Linked DNA regions of Homo sapiens: regions 1 and 3 are each linked to region 2. The links come from fine-mapping of genetic effects on gene expression. A gene starts in region 2. Each other region holds a variant in brackets. All regions are shown on one strand. Distances are from middle to middle.

The links.
Region 1: its variant is fine-mapped to the expression of COG2 in whole blood (TOPMed, PIP above 0.99). The same link has a PIP of 0.9 or more in thyroid.
Region 3: its variant is fine-mapped to the expression of COG2 in sun-exposed skin (GTEx, PIP above 0.99).

The regions. Positions count from the first base shown.
Region 1 is chr1:230,665,092-230,673,091 of GRCh38, reverse strand. COG2 (component of oligomeric golgi complex 2) reads right to left here. Exons shown (of 18, transcript NM_007357.3): 6 at 4,308-4,416; 7 at 3,557-3,736; 8 at 1,452-1,576. Among named protein-coding and RNA genes, the nearest start is that of COG2, 27 kb to the right of the region's middle. The variant A/T (reference allele first, on the strand shown) is at 4,804.
Region 2 is chr1:230,639,120-230,647,402 of GRCh38, reverse strand. COG2 (component of oligomeric golgi complex 2) reads right to left here and starts at 4,922. Exons shown (of 18, transcript NM_007357.3): 1 at 4,725-4,922. The coding sequence starts at 4,796. It overlaps LOC124904545 (a long non-coding RNA gene), which reads left to right and starts at 6,706. Exons shown (of 2, transcript XR_007066935.1): 1 at 6,706-7,109; 2 at 7,286-8,283. RefSeq lists silencers at 3,256-3,375, 4,989-5,128 and an enhancer at 4,679-4,898.
Region 3 is chr1:230,676,729-230,684,728 of GRCh38, reverse strand. COG2 (component of oligomeric golgi complex 2) reads right to left here. Exons shown (of 18, transcript NM_007357.3): 10 at 5,677-5,816; 11 at 1,094-1,155. Among named protein-coding and RNA genes, the nearest start is that of AGT, 33 kb to the left of the region's middle. The variant A/C (reference allele first, on the strand shown) is at 4,994.

The sequences.
Region 1 (8,000 bases), 26 kb before region 2:
TATCCCCAAATCCAACTAAATCCTTATGATTACTAAACAAAAGTAGCAAAACTAGACTTCATCTTAGGTGGTACAGAGGAAACAGAGAGGGTACTGCAAAGGCCAAGCAGCATATTAATTACCCCATATTTCTGCAAAGAACAAAAACTCAAGGCCAAATACATTGCTTGCTCCATGAAAACAGAGACCTTATTTGCCTTTCGATCATTAAACATAGTTAATTCTTTCATTTTGCAAGCACTAACTGGGCAGCTGCTAGCTCTAAGACACTGTGTCAAGAGGCAGGGGAAGGTGTGAGCAGCGGAGAGGTGATCATAATGCAACATGGAAATCAGTACTCAGCAGACCCAAGAGCAACACATCCTGCAATCCAGAGGACATGATGAATGCTGAACATTAGGAGAAAAAATGGCCTTTTTTTTTTTTTAAGATGGGGTTTTGTCATGTTGCCCAGGCTGGTCTTGAACTCCTGGCCTCAAGCGATTCACCTGCCTTGGCCTCCCAAAGTGCTGGGATCACAGGTGTGAGCCACTACGCCCGGTCAAGGATGGTCTCTTGAAGGAGGTGGTATCTGAGCTGGAGCTTCATGTGGAGAGGCAGTTTGACAGGAAAACAAAGGGCACAGGAAGGGGAGGGCAGGCAGAGGAAAAACGCAGAAGCACGTGAGTACAAGGGAGCTGGGGAAAGGCAGCTAGCACTGTGTGGCTGGAGCATCCAGGGCTATGGAGGGAAAGTTTCTACAGTGGAGAGCTACCAGGCAAGAACAAAAAGGGCCTCATGCCCTGCTTCGAGAAGCCTGGATCTTCCTCCATGCGCACTGAGAAGCCACTAAAGATTCATGAAGAAATCTATGAATCTCAGATTTCTGGGTAAATGTGACAGTCAGAAGCCTAGACTAGAGAGGGAGAGACTGGAAGCAGGGAGACAGGGTGGGAAGATTCTATTATTGTGGACAGCAGATGACAAGGCCTGGACTGGGACAATGGCAATGGTGAAAAGTAATGGGATATTTATGAAAGAGAATCAGGAAGTCATGGAAACTGAACAAAAGGAGGAAAAATTGAAGATGAGTTCACAATTAGTATAAAACCTGTTGAAATAAACTGAATTAATATTTATAGACAGATTATGACATATTAGAATCATGGAAGGAAAGCAATTCTGACTTCAAACTAAATTTAGGAAAAAGTGCAGAGAAGAAGAAAGGCTAGGCTTTGGATTCGGAAATGTGGTCTTCAGTCTCAGCTTCATCTCAGTTTCCACAACTTTGAAATGAGGCTAATGGAATCTGCCTCACAGTATCACCAGTAGAAACAATGAAATAACAAGATTCATAATGGATTCATACAAGACAGTTCATACAAGACAGTCATCGTCCATCGTGCACCTGCAATTAGCAGGTGCGGTCACTGAAAGGGAGGTGGGGGTCCACACAGGGTTGTTTAAATTACCTGGAGATGGCACCTCCTGTGACTTCTCGAAGAAGGCGGCAATGGTGAGGAACAAACTCCAGGAGTTTATTATACATGACCTGAAGGCCATTGGGATGAGATTCAACAAACTGCTCTATAATCACCTATTAAAAGAAAAATCATTTTTTAAAAAAGCATTTAAAAGGGAAGTACAAACGATCTATTTCAGAGAAAACAATAAAGAAAACTTTACAAATCTGCTTCCTCACACTCACCCTCCTCCCTGTGACACATTTTCTAAACAGTGAAGTAAATAACAGGTCACATTCAAAACTACTTCCTTGGATTAGGCTGTACAGATACAACTGTGGGGGAGACATGGGCTGACAAACCATGCACTCTCATCTGCTTCCCTGGGAGTCTGAAAATAAAATAACAACTTTTAAAAAAAGATTTAAAGCAGAGCACATGATTCGCCACCACAACTCCTCACTGTCTTCATCCTGGCCTTTTTTTCTACCATCATTCAGATTAGGGAAGGGTTTGAGGCAGAGAAAGACAGAAGAAAATATATTAGTTCATTATTTTATTTTTTGTGATAAAATTGGGAGACAAGAATGATATGACAAGATAAGCTGAGTTTAAATAAAACACAATGTGGCTACTGAATTTAATATGCCACTGAAAGTTCAAATAGTTCTTTAATTTAGCACACTAGATTCAGTTCCGTGAAAAAGGAATAGATTAGTGACTAAAATATTTTCATCGGTTGGGCGCAGTGGATCACGCCTGTAATCCCAGCACTTTGGGAGACCAAGGCAGGCAGATCACTTGCGCTCAGGAGTTCAAGATTAGTTTGGACAACATGGCAAAACCTCATCTCTACAAAAAAAACATTAGCCAGGCATGGTGGTGTGTACCTGTAGTTCCAGCTAATTGGGAGGCTGAGGTAGGAGGACTGCTTGAGCCCAGGAGGTTGAGGCTACAGTGAGCCATGATCATGCCTCTGCACCCCAGCCTGCGTGACAGAGTGAGACCCTGTCCCCCAAAGCACAAAAAAATTTTTTCACTTATTGACAAAGAAATAATGTATGTAATTTTTTCACCCCCATAGAGACAGCTATGGAATATAACATGATATAAACAGAGAGAACTGAAATATCATTTATTTTTAGTAATCTTAACAAGGCCAAAATAATTATTAAAATGAGTCCCTACATTTCATTTTTATCATTGGGAGTCTCAACTTTCCACTTTAAAAAATAAAAGACTTTCACCCTGAAATCATGTGAGTATAATCTTTGTATTTACTAACAGTCAGAACATTCATACTGACAGGACACTGGAGGAAAGTCCCCAAACACCGAGGACGGGCTCAGTGACTTCTCTCAGTTTGAAGCAGACAAAGCTGCTGTTTTTGTATGTCAGAAACTGTTGAATATCAGCAACTTTATATGGCACAATCTATACTCTGGCTGCTCAGAAGTGGGATATACTTGTTTCCTACATTTTAACTATATCCTACTAGGTGAAGGATACTGCATAGCCAAGTTCTAGATTTAAGGTATTACTTGGCTAATTTGCTATAAAAGCCCTTGATCTTTGAATATTCCTCCTCTCACCTTCCTCGTCCAGCAAACTCCTCTGTATTTTTCAAGACTTGGGCCAAATGTCATTTATTCCCTGAAGACTTGAGGGTACCACTGTCTACCCCACTCACACACCTTTCCACACTCACAGCACTCCCTGCACCTTCCTCGTACACTGCAGTGTTGTCACTGCTTAATTGCCTTAGTCCACCCACAAGACCAGTGATTTGAAAACATTCTTTTAACAATTACTGAGGAACCATCGCCTCCCATAAAATTGACCTAAAAGCACGTGGATGCCCTTGAATCTCGCCCTTGAAGCCTGAGCCGCAGCATTCCTAGGACACCTGAGACGGCACGCCCAATTCCTGGCATCGTAACATTACTTCCCAACTATAACCCATGGAGACCAATCCTTCCTTATAGCTGGTACTGTAGGAACTGAGAATCTTTCCAGAAAGATCTCTGTTCTCTCTTCTTATCTTCCTCACACCCAGTAAAGAGTCAAAGACAGAACAGAAGCTCATGAATGTTTGTTGAAGGAGGTACACAGACCTCGTCTATGTATGGTTTCACTAGTACTTGGCCAACTAAGGCCTCCGCGTCCCGTGTCTTGTCAATCGTGGCGTAAGTCCGCAAGCAGTGCCGTATTATATCGACGTCAGACGTCTGAAGGCCTTCTAATAGGAGACCTTCCAGTGACTGCTGTAACATGGCTGTAATGCCAGCTATACGCTGCAAGAAAAGGTGGGTAAATAAAAAAAAAGCTCTAGTTGTAACAGTTTCTGAAACTGCAAGTAGATATATAACAAGCCTCTTACACCAACAGATAATGACATATATAAAATCAAAATAATAACTTTTCCTGGAGAATAACAATGAACCCCTCACTCCAATCACTTTATAAGTAAATCTCTGCTTCATCAAAGAAGAATTTAGACAGAATTACAGAATGAGAAAAAAGTTACCTTCCTCTTAAGCTACGAAGTCAATCTTGAGGAAACATCATGGATTTAAAATCCAATTAAGGGCTTTGGATAAATTAATTGTCTACATCATATAAGATGTCCAATTCCATGAAATTCAGAATTAATTTTACTCTTATCATCTGGAGAATGTGACTGAGTCTTTACACAAAATCTATAATGTGTGACACTTAGGAAGCTGGCGCCCAAAAAATTAAAAATTGAAAAAAAATGCAAGGTTAGCTTCAAAACCCTGTAGATCAACAATATTACTAGTTTAAACCAGAATTATTTAGCAAGTCCCTAAACACCAAACTGTGGAAATCCAAAACAACACTTACCGGTCTTACTTTGTCCAAAAGAGGCATGCCTTTGCTTTGAACAGCATGAAACTGTAACTGATTAAATTCTGTGGCAATTCTCTCCAAAATTTGTCCAGTCAAAAGGGGGCTAGTAGAGAAAACAGTTATAGAAGTGTAACCCCTAAGGTCTCTATTTCCACGAGAATACATCACACGCCTGGCAGTGAGAGACTTTCATACCCACTGTATTTTGACTTTTGTCAGAGTGTTTTATGTGGCCACCTTGTTACAAGGTGAAAGCTAAAGCGTCTTTTGTGCCATCAGTCAATGTTCCCCAGACGCCATATGCACAGCATGTTCTAAGTGCACCGGGGAATCTGTTGAGTACAAGCTGCTGATGCTGCCTGGCCTTGACCCACAGGGACCAGACAGCAGCAGGGCTGGCTAGGCCTGTGGACATGCAATTATGTGTTTCTGCCACCGACTCCAAGCTCTCCCATTCATGACCTTCTTTTTCAGCTTTAACCTCCCTTCT[A/T]TTTCCCTCTTCCCCCTCTCCCCTTTCCCCTTCTCCCTCCTTATCTTTTCTTTTTCTTTCCATCTCATTTCTTATAGCTGGATCCTTTCTACTTCTCTGCCTGCCTCACTCTCCTTGCTAAAATACCTCTAGATATTTCTAAAATACCAAATATATTTGTCTCCTCAATGAATGAAACTGACTCTCCAGCAGCAATAAATATCTCAAAATATCTTATTTTAAATTTAAATAGTAATAACTTACTTTAAAATTACATTTACCAAACAGCAAGAGCAGTCAACCTACATGCTGTGGGTCCTAGTGAGAGGGCATTCTTTACGTACCTGGCACAAAATATAATAAATGCACTTTTTCCCCCCAAACATATTATAAAATGTCAATATCACTCAAAAGGAAGTAAAATAGCAGAGGAGAAGTATAAAGGCATAATCACTTGCTGTGTATACTGAGGCATCCTGTGTACACTGATGGCTCATCACCAGTTAGGGAGGAAAAATGTCCCTATCATGAGGACATATAAAATGCTGCACTGAGACCATCAGTGGTCCACCCAGTTCTGTATTTGTAGCATCCAAACTAGTTTAGAGGAACAGGAACTGCCCAGTGTGACCAACCAAAAAGGGAAACTCTGTCTTGAATATCCCTAACTGTTTCCTGAATAATCTCGTGTGAATTAATTATTTATAAATTATCTAAATGTTTCTTGGCTTAACAAGCATGGTATATCTACTATTCAGTAATATTGCCCTGGTTTTACCTTCACTACAGCTCAAATTTGCAGATCTGAATTTAAGAAAAGCTCCTCAAAGACGATTCGGAGCAAGGAAGAGTGCAGTGTCTATTATACTGAATATAACATACTGAATATAATATAATACAATAATATAAGAGTATCTCTAGAAACAGACATCACTGAGGTCATCAGAAAAGCTCCTCAAAGATGATTCGGAGCAAGGAAGACTGCAGTGTCTATTATACTGAATATAACATACTGAATATAATATAATACAATAATATAAGAGTATGTCTAGAAACAGACATCACTGAGGTCATCAGAAGCCCGTTCCCCACTAGTGGGAGACGTTTGGTTATCTTTTCTTAGGTACCTACTAGTTCCAGACACTGTGGTGTAAAGATGTCAGGGGCCTTATAGACTGAGAAGGCATGCAAGCCAATCAACAGTTCCAGTCTCACCGTTAAGTTGTCTAGGGGATGACCCGGAGGCCCGATGAATGCATGGAGATGGAGCATCTAAATCTGAAAGGTCAGGGAAGACTTGCTAAAAGAGGTGGTCTTGTAATTGAGCTTTATGGAAGGGAACTCTTGTAGTGTCTTGTTTGTACTTTCTCTCACAGAACTGAGTGAGACAGTTTTAAAGAAAGCAGAAGGGATCAACAGTATCCCACACAAAAGAGAAGAATAAATTTTACAAAACAAATCCATATCGTTTTATAACCTGCTTTTTTTCCACTTAGCACAGTATTTTTAAACTTTCTATACTTTAAGCATGTTTTGAGCTAGATTTGGATGGAATAAAGAGAAATCGGGCAGGTGAAAGGGAGGTGGAAGTTAAAGGAAGGGCTTTTAGTACAACAAATGGCCATACATAGTAAAATTAAGGAAGCGTAAGTCAGCAATGTTCAGGGCAGTCAGGGAACCAAAAGTAGTTCTGAATAGCTTTAGTGAAGAATACAGAAGTGGCAAGGAGCAGCTTGGGAGTTTAAGATTTACCTTAAAAACACTAGGAAACCATTGTTTCCCAATCACATAGTAAGATGTGATTAGACAAATCTAAAAGATCCATTTGGCAGCTAGGGTTAGTTGTCCTAGAGAAAATGAGAGGTCAGTCAGGAGGCCACTGCCTGAAACGAGGCAATGGGAGAACTGAGAGGGGGAGGCAGACATCTCTCAATCTCAGAGACACTAGAGCAGCAGAGTCTCCAGGGCTTGCCTAGTGAACGCCAGAAGGAGATGAAGTTTAAAAAAGGAGAAAATGACTCCCCCAAGATGTCTAGCCTCGTTAGTGAAGGAAATAAAGGCACCGTTTCCTAAGACAAGGAATAAAAGGGAGGAGTAAAATGTTTTTGCTGGTGGAGAGAGGCAGGGAAAGAAGATGAGAGCTCAGTTTTCAACATGATGAATGTGAAGTGCCTGGAGAACGTCCACTAAACTCCCCGCAGTCAGCAGACTGATGAGTCTGAGGACTACAGAAGTTCGTCTGCAGATAAAGAGATCAGCATCCAGGAGGCCATTAAAACCATGGGGTTGGATGAGGTTACCCAGAAAGTGCTGATCAAGAGCACAGTCCCAAGAACAGTGCCCTGGAGAAAGCTGGCATGAAAAAGGGCAGTGGAGTCCATCAAAGGAACAGAGTAGGAATGGGGAAGGAGGAAAAGAAAATGAGGAGGCAGGTATCACAGATGCCAAGTGAGGACATAGTTGGGAGGGGCTGTCAATGCTGTTGAGTGGAAGACAGAAGCAGAGCAGTTAGTGGAACAGGGCTCTGCTGGGCTCTCAGAACTGACACTGATGGGGACTCTGATGAGCGCAGATGAAGGGGAACAGAACGGACAGAAGCAGAAGTACTACAGGCTGAAGAAAAAAGATGGCAGCGATTGACCACTTATTTATACATCTCGATCAGGAAAGAAAGTAGAGACCTAGGACATGAGAATAATTTCCTTTTCGGATGCCTCATCTCCTCATCTATAAAATGAGAGAAACACAGCATACTGTCTCTACAGTCTCTCCAAATCTAAAATTCTGATTCCTAAAATTAAGAAATCCAACTTGTCTTGATAATACGATCAGGACTTTGAACTGCAGGTATATTCCATTTGGTCCTGGTTGGTTTTCCTGTAGCTTATCCCATATTAGTCAAGGAAAAGTATGATGGCTATCAATGTGACTTTCAGAGATGCTTGTGTTAGGCTCAAACTAGACATGTATGAGGGTCTAGTCTATGGCTACCAATCCTGCAAGTGGAGTTCCTATTAGCCTTATATGAGAGATGACAACACCAAGACACAGAGTGAAGTAACCTGACTCAGGCTACCCAGCTGGTACATGCAACATAAGCCCATGCTCTTTCCACTGCACCATGGAGTTTCCCATTAATGTTCATAATGATCCATTCAATTCATTTTCTGAGTCACTCAACTACCTGACTGATTTTAAATTCAGTGTGGGAAGGTAAT
Region 2 (8,283 bases):
TCTTGGACACACCTCCTGTTTCAATATTCCCTATTTACACACTTAGAATACAGATGAGCCTCAGAACTACAGTAAGGGGTCCCCTTATCTGAGGGAGATATATTCCAAGACCCCCAGTCAATGCCTGAAACCACAGATAGTACCCAACTCTATATACGCTATGTTTTTTCAATCAGATAACCAAGATAGCTACTAATCAATAGAAACTGTCCATCAGTGCAATAAGCTGCTCTGGAATACTTCCAAGTGTTCTGGAAAATGCTTTCTCATGTTTTCATGGTGTATACAGGTGGCAGTCTGATTACATACAAGCACCTGTTACATACAAGCACCGAGATGCGTTTTGAAAAGGGCACCCTGCCTGTGATGTAGAACACGGACTAGAAAAAGGCAAGAATGGATGCCAGGGGACTACAGTAAGAAGCCACTAGATTATAATGGCCAGAGATAATGATGAGTCAGAAAGTGGGAAAAGAGGAGATGGAGAGAAGTAGACAAATTTCAGAGATATTTGGGAAGTGAAATCCTAAGGCTTAGTAACAGGTTGGATTTCAAGAATGTGAAGGAGAGAGGTGTTATCAAGGATGACTCCTTGATAACATCTGACTCACAACCAGATGGATGGATTACCTCAGGTCTAGTATTACCTGAGATAGGTAATACCAGAAGAGAGCCAAGTTTGAGAGAAGGTTGGTTTTTTTCATCTTCCCCCAACAAATTCAGTTTTAAATATGCCGAGTTTGAGGTGCCACAGAGATAGCCAAGAAGAGATGTCAAGGCGCTGTGCACATGGGGTTGCAGATAAGAAGGTATTTGGGCCAGAAGTATGAACCTTTCACCTGTCTACACGTGGTCATTGAAGCTGCATGAAGTGGGTCACCTGCGGAAAGTGCACAGCATGTGAAAAGGAACAGACACGTGGCTGAGTCCATAACCCACCAATTAATGGCTAGGAGGAGAATGATTATGCAAAAGAGACAAGGAGACCAGAGAGGCCAAAAGATAACCAGAAAGCACCAGGTTTCAGAAAGCAAATGAAGGGAGCATTTGATCTACTGAGGTCAGGGAAGGAAGCAGAGAAGGTCTGGTGGATCGACTTCCATCTAGTTAACTTTGGTGAGAAGTCTTTAGTGGAATGATGGGGCCAGAAACCAGAGTGAAGTGAATTTAAGAGTGAAGGGAGAGAAAGTAAAGACAACATTTGGCTGTGAGCATTTGGCTGTGAGATGGAAGAGAGCGATGGGCTTTAACTGGAGGTTGGAGGGTCCAGTAGAAGAAACTAAAATAGGAGTGTGTCTGAAAGCCAATGGGAAGAAGTGTGGAGAGGGTGGGAATAACAGGGTCCTGAGAAGGGAGAGGGCACCGGATCCAGGCATGGGAGGCAGACCTCAGGAGGAAGGAAAGACCCCTACACCAGCGTCCCCAACTACCTGTGGGGAACCGGGTGGCCCAGCAGGAGGAGCGCAGCCTGTATTCACAGCCACTCTGTATTGGAGCTCCGCCTCCTGTCAGATCAGTGGCAGCACTAGATTCTCATAGGAGCATGGACCCTACTGTGAACTGCACATGCGAGGGATCTAGGTTAGGCACTCCTTATGAAAACCTAATGCTGAATGATCTGTCAGTGTCTCCCATCACCCCCCAGACAGGACTGTCTAGTTGCAAGAAAACAAGGTCAGAGCTCCCACTGATTCTACATTACGGTGAATTTTATAACTATTTCATTATGTATTACAATGTAATAATTATAGAAATAAAGTGTACAATAAATGTAATGCGCTTGAATCACCCCAAAACCATCCCCTGCACTCCTGGTCCATGGAAAAATTGTCTTCCAAAAGTGTCAAAAAGGTTGGGGACCATTGCCCTACACAACAGGTTAATGATGGGAGTGAGAACAGGTACAAATGCAAGAACGAGGTTGCTGTCAGCAAGATGAAGGAGCTACCGCTTGATGGCCTCTATTTTTTCTGTAAAACACATGAAGTCATACGTGAGACAGAAGGATATGATTGCCACAGCATACCTAGGTTAAGTGGGTTTAAGTTATCCCTGTTAGCCTACCACCTCTCTCCTACTACCAGTATCTTACATCCTAATTCATCTACTGATTGTCAACCCTCTCTAAGAGTGTTTGTACATTTTCTTTTTTTTTTTTTTTTTTTTTTTGACAGGGTCTCTTTCTGTTGCCCAGGCTGAAGTGCAGTGCTGCAATCCTGGCTCACTGCAGCCTTGACCTCCACAGGCTCAGGTAATCCTCCCACCTCAGCCTCCCAAGTAGCTGGGACTACAGGTATGTGCCACCACACCTGGCTAATTTTTCAATATTTTGTAGAAATGCATTCTCACTATGTTGCTCAGTGTGTATATTTTATTAAGCTGACGAAGTCAACAGTATCATGCCATTACCACCTTTGACCCCTCAAGTGATTCGTTCATCTGCCACTCCTGCTTTTTGATCATTTACGTAATATTTTCCACAAACTATCCCCTCCTGTATTTCTCAGATCTCATAAAAACCACTGAAATAACTTTTTAAGTAGCCTCCCGCCACCAGTCAGTTCCAACTGCAACATACATGATCATGTCATTTCCTGCTTTTAACCTGACTGTAACTCCACAATGAATACTAAATCAAGTGCAAATCCGTCAGTACAGTATACAAGGCCCATTGAAACCTGCACACAGCAGGTGATCATGGAATGCCCACTGACTGAACAATTGCTACCACTGCACTAGCATGCCCTCATGATCTATGGCAACCTAAACACAGTTTCCCATCAACACCAGAAGAGACGTAATACCAGAAGAGAGGTAATAACAGAAGAGAGTGGATTTCAAGCAACTTTAAATCTGGATTTTCAAGCAATCTCAAATCTCCCAATGCAAATGTCATATCCCAACTTTCTCACACGTACAAAACCTATCCAATTACAAAATGTGCTGAATGAGACACAAACATAGAAATATAGCCTGGACAAGTGTTCCAACCATCCTTTCTGCCATGGAAGTGCAACTTATATGTAGTTTTATATGTTTAAGGCAACACAAATTGCAAATAACCTTTATCTTCAAGCTCCACCTAAAAAATCAACAAAATTTTACACAGAACAGCTGTTCTATGTATTTTCTTCTATGTATGTTGTCACTTTTATAAGCACTACAAAATGTACCGCATATTCACAGAGCCACGAAATATGCAATTGCTGGCATTCCAGCCACCACCCCAGTTTGCACTCTAAGTTCTATTTTAGAACTTGTATTTCTGTGATTTCACTTCCTGAAGCTGCATTTACCAAAGGCATTCTGTCAACTCAGAGTGGGAAAGGTGGTGGGGCTAGTGAGTCAGAGAAGATGCTGGTGTTGAGCCTTAAGAAGTCAAGAGATGGACAAACTGAGATTATTCTGTACTCTGAGATTCTTGACGTCAACAAGGCCCCTGATCTCCGTGTATGGCCTTTCCTCTTCCAGGGCACCTCTCCCCAGCATGTACCCTTAGCTGTTTCTTTCTACCCTCATTTCAGGGTAGCTCTTAGCCAGTAGGCAAAACGAAGGGTTTCTGGATCAATGAGTTGATTCTGTACATTCTTTGAGACATCCTAATGAAGTTACACCTTTTAGTACAGTGGTCTAATAGGAATATCACTTACAAGAATAAGGTACATTATTCCTGGGTATAGATAAGTCCTACATACGAAAAATGATATGGTCACACTGGAGAAGATACAGATCTACTTTAAAAAAAAACAGCTTTGGAGATGTAATCTGAATGCAAATATTATCAAAAAGAGATAGGCTAATTAATCTAGAAAACATTATGTCACCAAGAAAGGCAGAGTAAGATTTCAACTCACTTGCTCAAAATTGTAGATGTCTACTAACCAGCTAAAACTTTTCGCTTTTTAACACTGAAAGCAGCTACTAAAAGGTGTCAAAAATCCTAGTCCTCAGGAAATTAAATAGAAACATTTTTTGAATGGCTTAAGTGCAGACCCAGAGGGATACACCAAGTAGGAGCAAAGCTCCTCCCAGCTCTCACTCAAAGCCTGGCCATTTTCAAGGCTGTGCCTGATGAACTTTATCATCAGTGAAGTGTTTTCAGTTTATATTTCTTTTCTCTAAGTTTATGACCTACAACTACCAACTTCTTCAAATGCATCACGTAAAAAGTAGAGCAACTTCTTTAAAGAGTAATGGTTTGCTTTGTCGTACTGCAATAGTCGGTAAGAATGTTCTAAGCTTCTAAATATCCCATTCTGGAAGCTTTAGCTGAATGTTAAGCAAAACTTCAGATTAAGTTCTTTTTCTTTCCGACCCGAGTCCCTAGGAAAGTACGTGGGCTTGGAGATTTATTCAACACACACTTAATGAGCTCCAAGGCCCCGGTCCACAAGCTTCTTTCCGACAAGGGGACTGGCAATCTGACTGCACTGCATGGTAACAGGAACGGGTAACAGTGGCTTTGACATGCAGCTCAAAACCACTTGCCCAGAACTTTCAGGCCTTTCCATGTAACACGCACGATTTTACAGAAGTGCTTTCTCCAGGCTGCACCCGCCAAACCTGACGCCAAAAGACTCATTGCGAAGTGCAGCGAGGTCTCGGCGGAGGACCTGACACTGAGCGTGCGCAGGCAGGAGCAGCCGACCGAAGAGACCGCCACAGAGGGCACAGGGCAGAGGCACCCTCATGGCCCGGCTCCGGGGAGCGGACGCCGCGCGCACCTTCATGAACTCGTCCTTGTCGAAGCAGAGCGTGTCCGGCCCCTTGGGCAGGTTCATCCTACTTTTCTCCATCCCGCCGGCCACCGCCTCTCAGTGCCAAGATCCAAGCGAGAAAACGCAGGAGGCTGCGCAGACCGACTCGGCGGCCGCGGCCACCGCCAGTTTCCACGGCACAGGGGGGTCCGCTTCCGCCAACATGGCAGCGCCCGCGCCGCGGCCAATGAACGACGGCACCGCAAGCCGGCCTGCGCCTGGCTCTGGCCAAGAGGGGCGCGGGGGCCGCCGCTGCTGCACGGGTAGGCCGTGCTGCCCTCATGTGGCGGAGGGCGGTACTGCAGCCTCGCGCGGGCTCCTGCAAGGCTGCCCACCTCCCTAGGAGGCGTGGCTGAGCTGCAGGGGTGGGTCAAAAGGGGTGAGCGGGTCTCCCTCCCACCCCCACCGTTTCTACTGGGAAAAATTGTCCTACAACGCTTTTCCAGTGCCTTCTACCCTGAGACTGCTCTGCTTCGTTATGCATGGCCAGAAGTTGGCCCTTTGGTTCTCAGGCCCGTTTTCCAGGTTGGACGTATCACCGTGGTCGCATTCTTCACCTCCCTGTGCGCGGTCACTGCCGCTGGTGGGCGCTAACGCCTCTATGGAGACCCCCGCCCTTAGCCTCTGTCCCCACAGAGAAGTGTAGCGTCTCCTCCACTGGGCTCCGTTACTGGGAACTCATAGGGAAGAAGGTGGTCAGCTAGGCGGCTTTGGGTCCTCTGAGTAGCTCCCTGCTCAACCTCGGTCTCCGTTCCAGGTGGGCAGCCTCTGAGCGCAACTTTGGGTCTTCAAGGTGCTTAAAGGAGTGCCTCGCTATCTGATTAAACACAGCAGACAAATACATGTGCATGCACATTTATTTTTAATTTCAACCAGGAATGGACAAATTTTTGTGTTGTGGCCAGTACTGGTGCAACCAAACCAATTTCTTAGACTGTCTTCCTCCTCCTCCCCCCACCCACCCCAATTTTATTCTGAGACGTTCTTCCTTTATCTCCTCCCTTGCTTTTTTCTCCTCTTGTCCCTTCCGCTAGCTGTAAATACCGTGGTCAAATGATGATGATTCATTTTTCTTCTTTTCTCCTTGACATTCGGATGATTCAAACCACAAACCTCACTTCACACTCTTCATTCTGCAAACCTTTCCTTCCCGCTTCTGTTGAGGAATCTAGGCCTCTCTTCCCAATTTTTCTCCTTGGAGATAAGATTAACGCCATGATGGCCTGTAAAAAGGAATGGGACAGCAGAGGGTAAGACCTCACCATGAGACTTTGTATTTCAAGTATCTCAACTAGAAAACTGGTCACTTAAAAAAAAATGTAGGCGTAGAATCCAAAACGCTCTACTCCCTAGCACTGGACCTAGCAGGCCCTGTTGAAGAGCCTATTTCCTGCCAGTATCTACAGAACAGATGAACAGGATAAGAGCCGGAAGCTAGCTGGAGGATCAAAATATTCTGCCAGAGGAGCGATTGGGAAAAGTACATCCTAAGTCCCTGTTATGTTTGTTTTGCTGGAGGAAATGAAAACCTCATTTTCTGTTTAATTTTTTGTTTTCTCTTGTTATGAAAATTTTCAAGTACACAGAAGTGTGGAGAGCACAAGAACCCCACCCTATGTACTTAGCACCTCGCTTCAACCATCATCAACCTGTCTCCTCTGCCCTTCCCCACCCACCGCATCGAGACCTTCTTTTTTTGTTGTTTTATATATATATATATATACATATATATATATATTTTTTTGAGACGGAGTTTCACTGTTGTTACACATGCTGGAGTGCAATGGCATGATCTCTGCTTACCGCAACCTCCACCTCCCAGGTTCAAGCGATTCTCCTGCCTCAGCCTCCCGAGTAGCTGGGATTACAGGCATGTGCCACCATGCCTGGCTAATTTTGTACTTTTAGTAGAGATGGTGTTTCTCCCTGTTGGTCAGGCTGGTCTCGAACCCCTGACCTCAGATGATCCACCCGCCTCAGCCTCCCAAAGTGCTAGGTTTACAGGCATGAACCACTGAGTCCAGCCCTTTTATTGGAATATGTTTTAAAGCAAATTCTAAACACCATATCATTTCCTATCCCCTAATACCTCAGTTTACGCATCAAAAGAAGAAAAAAAAACCCTGACATTTTGTAACACCTAACAAAACCAGCAATTCCAATAACCAATCTATAGTGGCTCTGAAAGGTGGGCCTTTATCCCAAGGTCACACTGTTAATAAGTGGCAAGTTGCAAACCCAGGCAGCCTGGCTTCAAAGCCCAGTACCAAGGCACGGGAGAGGATGCTGGACAGATGAAACAAAGATGTCTGCAACCCTGCCTTCTCTTTCGAGGCTCTGCAGGAAGTCTAGGTAAGCTGGAACTTGAACTCTTTCTTTCTTCACTGTAATTCCCTTCTGACATTGTTCCTGGGACTTTAGAAATAAAATGAACCTGAATTTGTACAGACTGGGCTTATCTTGAGGATGCTAAAGGGATTAAGTGGCAACAGCGATGGAGGGTCCCTGCTGCCTGCTGTCCTCCCTAGATTCAGAAGGGAACCATCAGGACCCCATGGAGTGGGCTGCGGCTTGGAGACACAGATAGTGGTGCAGACCACCACAGCCAGGCGCAACAAGAAAGACTTCAATGCTAGCATCATAATCTACAGAGGACAAACGCAAGAGAGAAAGCCTACACCTGCCCAGAGGACATGGCCCTGGGTTTCCACTCAGAGCTGATGTTCAACTGGCACACAGTATTTCAGCTGTGCTACTTGGTAAATATTGCAACATCTCAAAGGTTGGTGAATGGCCTCTGTACAGAATCTGCTGCTGCCCTGACCCCTACCTTGGCCTCATGATCCAGCCATTAGAGGGTTACTGCCTGGCTTAGCGGGGCTCCTCTAGCCAGCTTCTGATTGGCTAGTGTCTGTGCTGTTAAATATTTGTCTGCTGTTAAATATTTGAATGTCATCTCTGGTAGTGATACTTATTTCATAGTATTTGCAGGAAGAGAAAATTTAAAAGTGCATATAAAGCACCTGCCTAATCAATGCAAGACATAATATGGAGTCTTTTTACCTGAGTTTTTCCCCCTTTGTTGATCTGTAACTTTCTTCAAAATGAGACTTTAGTTGGCACATTTTTCCATCTTTTTCAGTCTCTCCCCTAATTTCATCCTTTCTTGGCTTTTCTTTATAAAGCATGCACCTGCTACTTCATTTCTAAGTAAATATTAATCCCCCTTTGACTTTGCATCTCTGGAAAATTTTTAGTTCCCTGTTTTCAGTGGCATTGTGAGAGGTCCCATTTTTTTCTTCCCACTCTCCCCTATTTATAGGCTCCACATTTTTGGCAGGTTTGCTATAGAACACTCAAAAATTGCAAGGGGAAATATTATGCTCAGGAAATCATAGGAGCATTTTCTCTAGTAATCATCACCAAGTTCTTATGCTGATCCTCTCCTGAACTGTTGGACTAAAGCAGCTGAATTTTCCAAAAGCAACCAGAGTCGCCCTTGTTCACTACTGAAGGATAGGAGGGT
Region 3 (8,000 bases), 37 kb before region 2:
TTGTCCTATTTCACAAGAGTCTTCCTCTATCTCAACATACTTCTTATTTTTATAGAAGAAGTTAACTACATATGACCATTTTTGGCAAAGACAGATGAAAACTAACTCTGAGGCTAAAATTGATTCAAAATGACAGTAGACTTAGCTGTATAAAAGAGAGTGGAAATTTAAGTTGAGGAACCTAGATATCAGCACACAGTATTTCAGTGGTCACTAGGAATAAATATATGATACAAAAATTAATGAGGCTGAAAGGGTATGTCAACATGTACTGGTAAGTCCACATACCTACAACTGTTACCTGCCCAACATCCTAGGATGGGCGGCCAGGGCACAGGAGGCCCAGGATGCATGCTCCAGCTGTGAGTCATTCTCAGTGAGACGCAGGAGCACCTGACCCTCTACCATGCAGACCAGTCCTCAGCCTGGGAGGAAGGCAGATCACAGCCAATTTGCTAAAAAAAACCAGCTGTTCACATAAGCACACCAAGGGGCCATATCCCCTGGACAAGTTATATTCAGGAATGAAAATGAGGTCTGTTTCCTATATTCTTATTCATTTTTCATCTCTATAAAGCAAGAACTCTATACACCAAAACTATTTGGTTTATTTTTACCTTATTAAAAAAAGAAGTCAGGCTGGGTGTGGTGGCTCATGCCTGTAATCCCAGCACTCTGGAAGGCCAAGGGGGGGTGAATCACTTGAGGTCAGAGTTCGAGACCAGCCTGGCCAACATGGTGAAACCCTGTCTCTGCTAAAAATAAAAAAATTAACTAGGCGTGGTGGTGTACACCTGTAATCCCAGCTACTTTCGAGGCTAAGCCAGGAGAATAGCTTGAACCTGGGAGGCGGGGGCTGCAGTGAGCCAAGATCATGCCATTGCACTCCAGCCTGGGCAACACAGCGAGACTCCATCTCAAAAAAAAAGCAAAAAAAAGAAGTCAAACTAAGTGATTTTTAAGGTCCAACTTACTGTATGATTAAAAAAAAAAAACAGTAAAAGTACGCTCAGAATACTGCAATCCAGATGACTTGGTGAACTGAATGAACTCATTTAGGATACCATGCCACTTATCACTTTAAGGGAGTTACCTGGGGCATCTTCCAGGACATCTGTAAGTGCTGCTTCTAAGGATCCCGCTATTTCTCTAAATCTGAGATAAAAACAAGAAGAAGAATTAATGTTTATGACTCTGACAGATGCCTTTCCCTATCCATTCTCTGTTTTTCCTAAGTAACAGGAACTTCCTCTGTCACTCACTGGTAAGTCCAGCCTCGGAATGCCTATTCTCCCAGGCTTTTTTTTTTTTTTTTTTTTAACTGAACAAGAAATCGTGACTAAGCCACTGTTATATAAGGGTTCTCTGTTATTTGCAGCTGGTCTGAATCATAACTTACCCCATGTTTCTCAAATTAAACAAACTGCCAGTTAAGTCTCCATCAAGAAGTTGTTGCTGGTGAGCAGCACCTGATTATGATCCTCTATTCACTTCAAGGCCATAAAACTTTGGTTCCTCCAACCCATCTATCTTAACACCATCACAGGAAGGTAAACGTCCCCAAGCTAAGAAAGCTGCATTCTGTACCTGTGTTGGCAGCTTGAGAAAAATCACAGGAAGTGGCCAGTTAAAACTAGAACTCACTGCTTGGTGCTCTTCTAATCTGTGACCCTCTCCCACGTCCATGGTACTTGCCCTTCGGGTTCTACGGCTGTCTGTACCAGCGCTTCCTAGATGTGCGTTCTTTTTTCCCTGATGACAGCTGGCTCACCTGGCACCTCAGCTCATCCTGTCACAGACTTCTGTTCTAATAATGGATATGGACATGTTTTTATGACTTTGTGAAAGGCAAATGTGTTATATAGTTTTTTTAAGCTAGCTGCTTTTGCAGGCATTGTTTTCTAACTATATAACTCTTGCAATTTCATATATCTCTTTACTAGCATGCTCTTTTGTCACCTGCTAATTGCCTTACTAGTAATGAATTCTGATGCATGCTCAATATCAATTTATCCAACTGATATTAAATTATTTTTTATAGTACATAATGTGCTTTTACAAAGCGGTTCACAGACTGAGCTAAAGGCAACTGTCTGAAGAGTAAAAAGAACAGCTTGAGACAAAAAGCAGCAGCCCTACCCAACACAGCTGAGCACTGAAGACACTAAGGCTATCCTGTACCATTGTAGCTGGCTGGTTTCCAGTAGCTGTCCCGTCTGCCCCATGGAAGGAAAGGAACTCTAATTGCCCAGTGAAGCTTACAAAAGGCTAGTCTTTTCAAGCTGCAGTTGAGAGGTACAGAAGGAACAAGTGACAGATGGAAAAGTGGGATAAGAGAGCACTGGAAACTAGCCCAGGAACAGCAGTAAGAGGAGGCAGTGACACTGAGCACGGGAACAAGGGAGATGGGATTGCTCTGCACCTGGGAGAGCAAACCAGCACCTAGAGCTCAATCTCAGACCCCCAAGTCCTGCCTTTTTTCAAAATCTAAACAAAATATAGGAAGTTAGCCCTGATACAGAAAAGGCCTGATAGCTGGCACAGCACTGTTTATATCAGGGAAAAACTGGAAGCAACCTAAATGGCCAAAAGAAGGAATATGCTTATGGAACCTGAGATATATTCAATGGACTAGTATGCAGTATTAATGTGGAAGCTTGATGCTATTTTCCAATAAGGAAAAATAGGTATAATTTAGTACTATCCAAAGACATGGGACACAAAGTTTTATGTATATTTATGATAATTCTGAAAAGCATAGAAATGAAAAAGGACCAAAGAAATGCAGCAGAGCCTTGATCCCTGCACTTCACAGAGACGTTCTGCCTGTCTGTGAGCAGGGACAGTGATACATGATTACAACTGCCTGAGTCACTTGGCCTAGGTGTGCTCCCCAGCCAGGGGACCAGCCCCTCACACAGCTCTGCTGTGCAGTCACTTCCAGGAATGAAGCAACAGATCATATTTCTTCTTGGAAAATGGCCAAAAGTGAGAGGGAACCTCTGCTGAAATCTGAAAAGCCATGCTGTGGTTTTCATGTGCACATCGAATGTCATTCTACTCTCAACAGGATCCATGTAAGAAGGGCAACCCCAAATACAAACATTTCTAAATTCTTAAATATAGGCCTGGGGAAGGTCTCTAGACATATTCCTCCACGAACATCACAGGTCTACAATAATACTTAAATAAAAATAACAATGGCGATAATAATAGTGATGCCTATTGTTTTTTTTCTCTGAAGTATTGGAAACATCATTAAGTGCACCCGTCTCTTGTGGATACACATGTCTGAGAGGAGTGCAGGAACAGGAAAGGGCTACTTGCACCTTAATACTACTATGTAGATTCCACATCATAAGACTGTGTTCAGCATATACTATGTAATACAGTATATACATGTGAATGTACTATAAAGATTTCAATTTTAAAAAGAACAGCAAACTGAAATTTAGGCTTTAGCATTTAAAGAGCTAACACCTGCAGTTTCCAGGCAGCCACTGACTCATTATAATTTGGGGCTGTTTTGATCACATCTGCATTTAATTTCTTCCTATGAGATACTAAGTCCTCATCTACTTTCCAATATGCCTGTAGGTGCAAATGAAATGTAGACACAGTGGGGTCTCAGGAAGAGTGAGAGGATACAAAATGTGTTCACAAGAATTGTGGTGGTGGCTGGGGTGGGGAGGTGGCCTTTTTCCTGAAGGTGATTGGGATGTGGGTATATAGTCAGATCCAGGAGCAGAAAACTATTACTGAGAGTAATATTTCTTCTTAGGAAATGTCCAACCATCACACCCCACTGTCTTTAGGTTTACTTCAAATGACCTTGAAATGAATCTGATGACAATGCAACTCTGACCCTAATCATGTTTGCGGAACTTTTTGTCATCCTTCAGAGCAAACAACTCAACACCTGATAAAAATCAATAGAAAAGTTCTACAAAGTCTTAATGGAATTTACTTTTTAGATGGAAAAACAAATGTACTAAAGACAAGTTCTACACTTCCGTAACTCAAACGTGTTTTTTTAAAATTTCATGAATTTTAAATAAAAGAGGTTTTTTAAAAAAGGCTAATCAGCTCCTTTGAAGGCTTAAGGCTGAAATCTGGTGAAGGTAAAAAAGACTTTCAGGGAACTGGCTGAGTTTCAATGTAGTTTAAGGTCCAATTACCAGCTTTGAGAGAAACTGAAATGGAAGGGAGATGCAGCTGAAGCCAAGCTGGGCCGTCACCAAGGGGCCCAGCCTGGCAGAGCCAAGAGCATGGGCTGAAATAGCCCATGGGAGCTCCAGGAGGTGCAGGGGTGGGATGGAAGAGTGAGGTGATGCTGCATGGGTCCCAGGGTCTGAGGAAAAGGACCAGGAAAGTTTGGAGGCAGGAAGCAGAGGAGTATGTTTGTGAGGTGACAGCATTAGATAACTAAAGCAATCTAACTCCAAACCTGGACGACAAAAAGAGATGGGGAAATGTAAACATTATTTCTACATAGCAGTATCATTTTATAAAATGATGCTTTGCTATTTTAAATCCTGCTCACAAATCAAAAAGGTTTCTTGCCCTGGCTTGATGTTGATTATCATATACCAACTATTTCCAGTGCATCCCATTAATATCTTAGATGAACAAATCCGTAATTTCCTGCTGAGAGACCAACTACATGATGATGCAACCTTGGAAAATTTAGCATAAAACACAGTATTGTAAGTGAAAGGGCACCTTACTACTTCATTCTGAGAACTGTGATTTCATTATAAAAAGATCATTACATACATTCTCAATCATCTCAAGCAATTATCATCAGGGTACCTAATTCTTGATTTCCCTCTCTGTAATTATTCCTCAGAACGCTAGGGGAAAGGACTGCATCATAATTAATGAAAGCATCCAGCAATTTAAATAAAAAAGCCTATGATTCTTCAAAGAGCATTTCAAGTAAAATCCATTCTACGGAAGAACATACCATGACCTCATTCAAGAGAATCTGCAA[A/C]AATGACTCTTATCATGTTTTTCCAATGCAGTGTATGATAAGGGTTCATCCTAAATTTCCCCCAAGTATTTTATAGAATGGCTTATTGACAAAGGTGATATCATCATGAAACCTGGAAGAAAAATGTCACCATTTTCCTGAATAGAGGGTACAAATGTCACAAAGACGATCAGGGAGGCTGAAATAATGACCAGGCTTCTCATAAACTAATAGATGGAACCAGCTGCAAAGAACACTTAAAGCTCTGCTTCTCCCCATTCCCTCTAGGGGAAAAGTATCTCAGACGAGCAAAAACAGATGTGAGACAGGTTCATTATTTGAGGCAGACGATGAAATAGGGAAAATGGAAAAAAAGAGCTGCTGTATAACTCCTACTTTCTCTTTTCACAATGAATGAGGACATGGTGGGTGGGAATGAGGCTGGGCTTGGAGTCAGCTCCTTCCAACTCTTGTGTTCTGAGCTCTCCAATTACCAAAAAAGAAAACTTATCTTTTTGTCATGCAAGCCAGACTTTGGCAACCATAATACTTCTTATATCTCTTTCTCCACTTTCAATTTTGTCTCCCAAAGCTTATTATGATGATCAGAGAAAAGGAGCCGCTAACTGAGGCAACATCCTTAACTGGCATTCCAATTCTGTTTTAGAAGGGTGCGGGGCGGGGGCGGTGAATAGATGACCAACCTTATTTGAAAATAAACAGGCAAGTTCCACTTCTTATTGAAGCTGTGATAGGCAGGATGGGCTCTTAATCTCTTTACACTAGCCTGTGATCCACACTGCCGTTCCAATCTTCTGACAAAATCCATACTTATGGTATATTTCTAAAATAAAACAAAAGGAAAATTTTCATTATTAGAACACTAACTAGAACAGGGAGCATGTACTGAAAACTGTAATCAAGATAAAGAAGCTCAACACGTAAGAATCACAGTTTCTAGAGTTAACAAGGAACTTACAAGATCTTTCTTCCAATGTCCCCATTTAAAGATACATAAATGCCCAAAGTGGTTCTGTGATATGTCTTCCGTGTCTTCCATGGCAAAGCCCATCTGAGACCCAGGCACTCTAAGTCTGGTGCTCTTTAAATGGCAGTGCTCATGTTCTAGGGCCCCCTACCCCAGCCCACTGGAATTAGAATTGACAGCAGATTAAATGACATAGTTCGTCATTGCCTCACAAAGGAGAAAGAAGGAGAAAATTCTGAAGAAGAAAGAGAGAGAAGAGAAAGAATCAAACCATGTGAGTATTCACTTCATTTTTATAAATAAGATAGCATGAAAACTGACAGGGAGATGTACCAAAACCATTAAGAGTGGCAGCTAACTCGTAGCATTTATCATCGACACACTGTGATTAGAATTGTCTTATTTAATTTAACCCACAAAACGACCCCACAGGGCAACTACCATCATCATCATCATCATCATCCCCATTTTACAAATGATGCTTCTTCTTCTGTTGAGGCTCACAGAGAACCTGCTCAAAAGACAAGCCAGGCGGTAGAGGAAGCAGAATGCTAGTCAGTCAGTTGACCAAAACTGCGGCTGCATGTTGCTTTTGTGGGTACTTTATTCCCGAAGCCCCCAGGCTCTAAGAACACTGTTGAATTTTTTATGTTCTTCTCAATTAAAAGGGGCTCAATCCAGGGTCATCAAACCATTAATCTAAATATGCTAAAGTCTGTGCTTAGAAAGGATCTTACAGTAGTAAAAACTACAGGCTTTAAATTTATTTCAAATGGTTTTGGGCAAACTTATGTTATCCCAGAGGGTGGTCTAGGTGTGTGGAGTTGAGACAAAAATAGGGATTATTCTTCCCTTTTGGGACAAAACTATACCTCTGCATATAATGGATGCTAAAACAAATATAAAGATATTGCCCTCTTACAAGAAACACATTACATTAAGGCTTAAAGCTGAAAGTATTTCTGGAAATAAATGGATACTATCTGCTGGAAACTATACTCACAAATGTTAAGTATTAGCCTAAAATTCTAAAGTCAAGTTCTATCAGAAAGGTTCATTTCTGAGCTGAAACATTTCCTGAGTCAAACATGGTCAATACGAGTCTCTAAAGCACACAGCAAATTGTAAAGCGTCTTCACATTTGCTAGTGCTTAAAGCTTACAATTGCTTCTGCTTAAAGCCATTATTTCACTCTCCTTATGCTATCTTATTTAAAAAGCCCTACTTTTTAAAATTACAAATGTTGCTATAAAATTTATTGAAAATGGCACAATCCTGTTATTCAATGCACTGTAACATGGGACAATCAGCCAACAGATAAGGTAAGTTGCATTTCTGGAATGGTAAACCTCCCAATGTGTTGTCTTATCTGTGGGAAACCTGCTGGGCCCCAGGCTGTCTGTTTATGCTTATCTTGTGCCTCTCTACACTTAAAAAATTAATAAACAAATTCGCCAGGGAGGCTAGACAAACAACAAATATGACTTCTAGAAATAAAAAAATATGATAATTAACCAGAAACTCAATGTGCAGGTGGAAAAGAGTTTAGACACAACTAAAGAAGGAATTAGTGACCTAGAAGACAGACTGTGAAATTATCGAGAATGCAGCAAATACAGAGGATAGGGTGAGCCTGTCTAAACAAGAGATCTAGATGGAGATGATAGAGGAATGAAAGAAAAGCACAATTGAAGAAATAATATATAAAAATGTTCCAGAATGGATGAAAGATACCAATTCTCAGATTCAGAAAACCTATCAAATCCTAAGGATAATAATAAAAAAAGAAGTTCTACTGGACATATCATAGCAGAACTTACTTAGCACACCAAAGTCACACAGAAGATCTTAAAAGCAGCCAGAGAAAAAAGGCATTAACTACAAAGAAATAACAATTAAATTAACGGCTAACTTAATAATGCAACTCAAAAGACAACACTCAAAGTGCTGAGAATTCTGTTAATACATCCAGCAAACTGACCTTACAAACAGAAGCAATACAGTTATTTTCAGACAAACACAAACTGAGAAATTATTAAA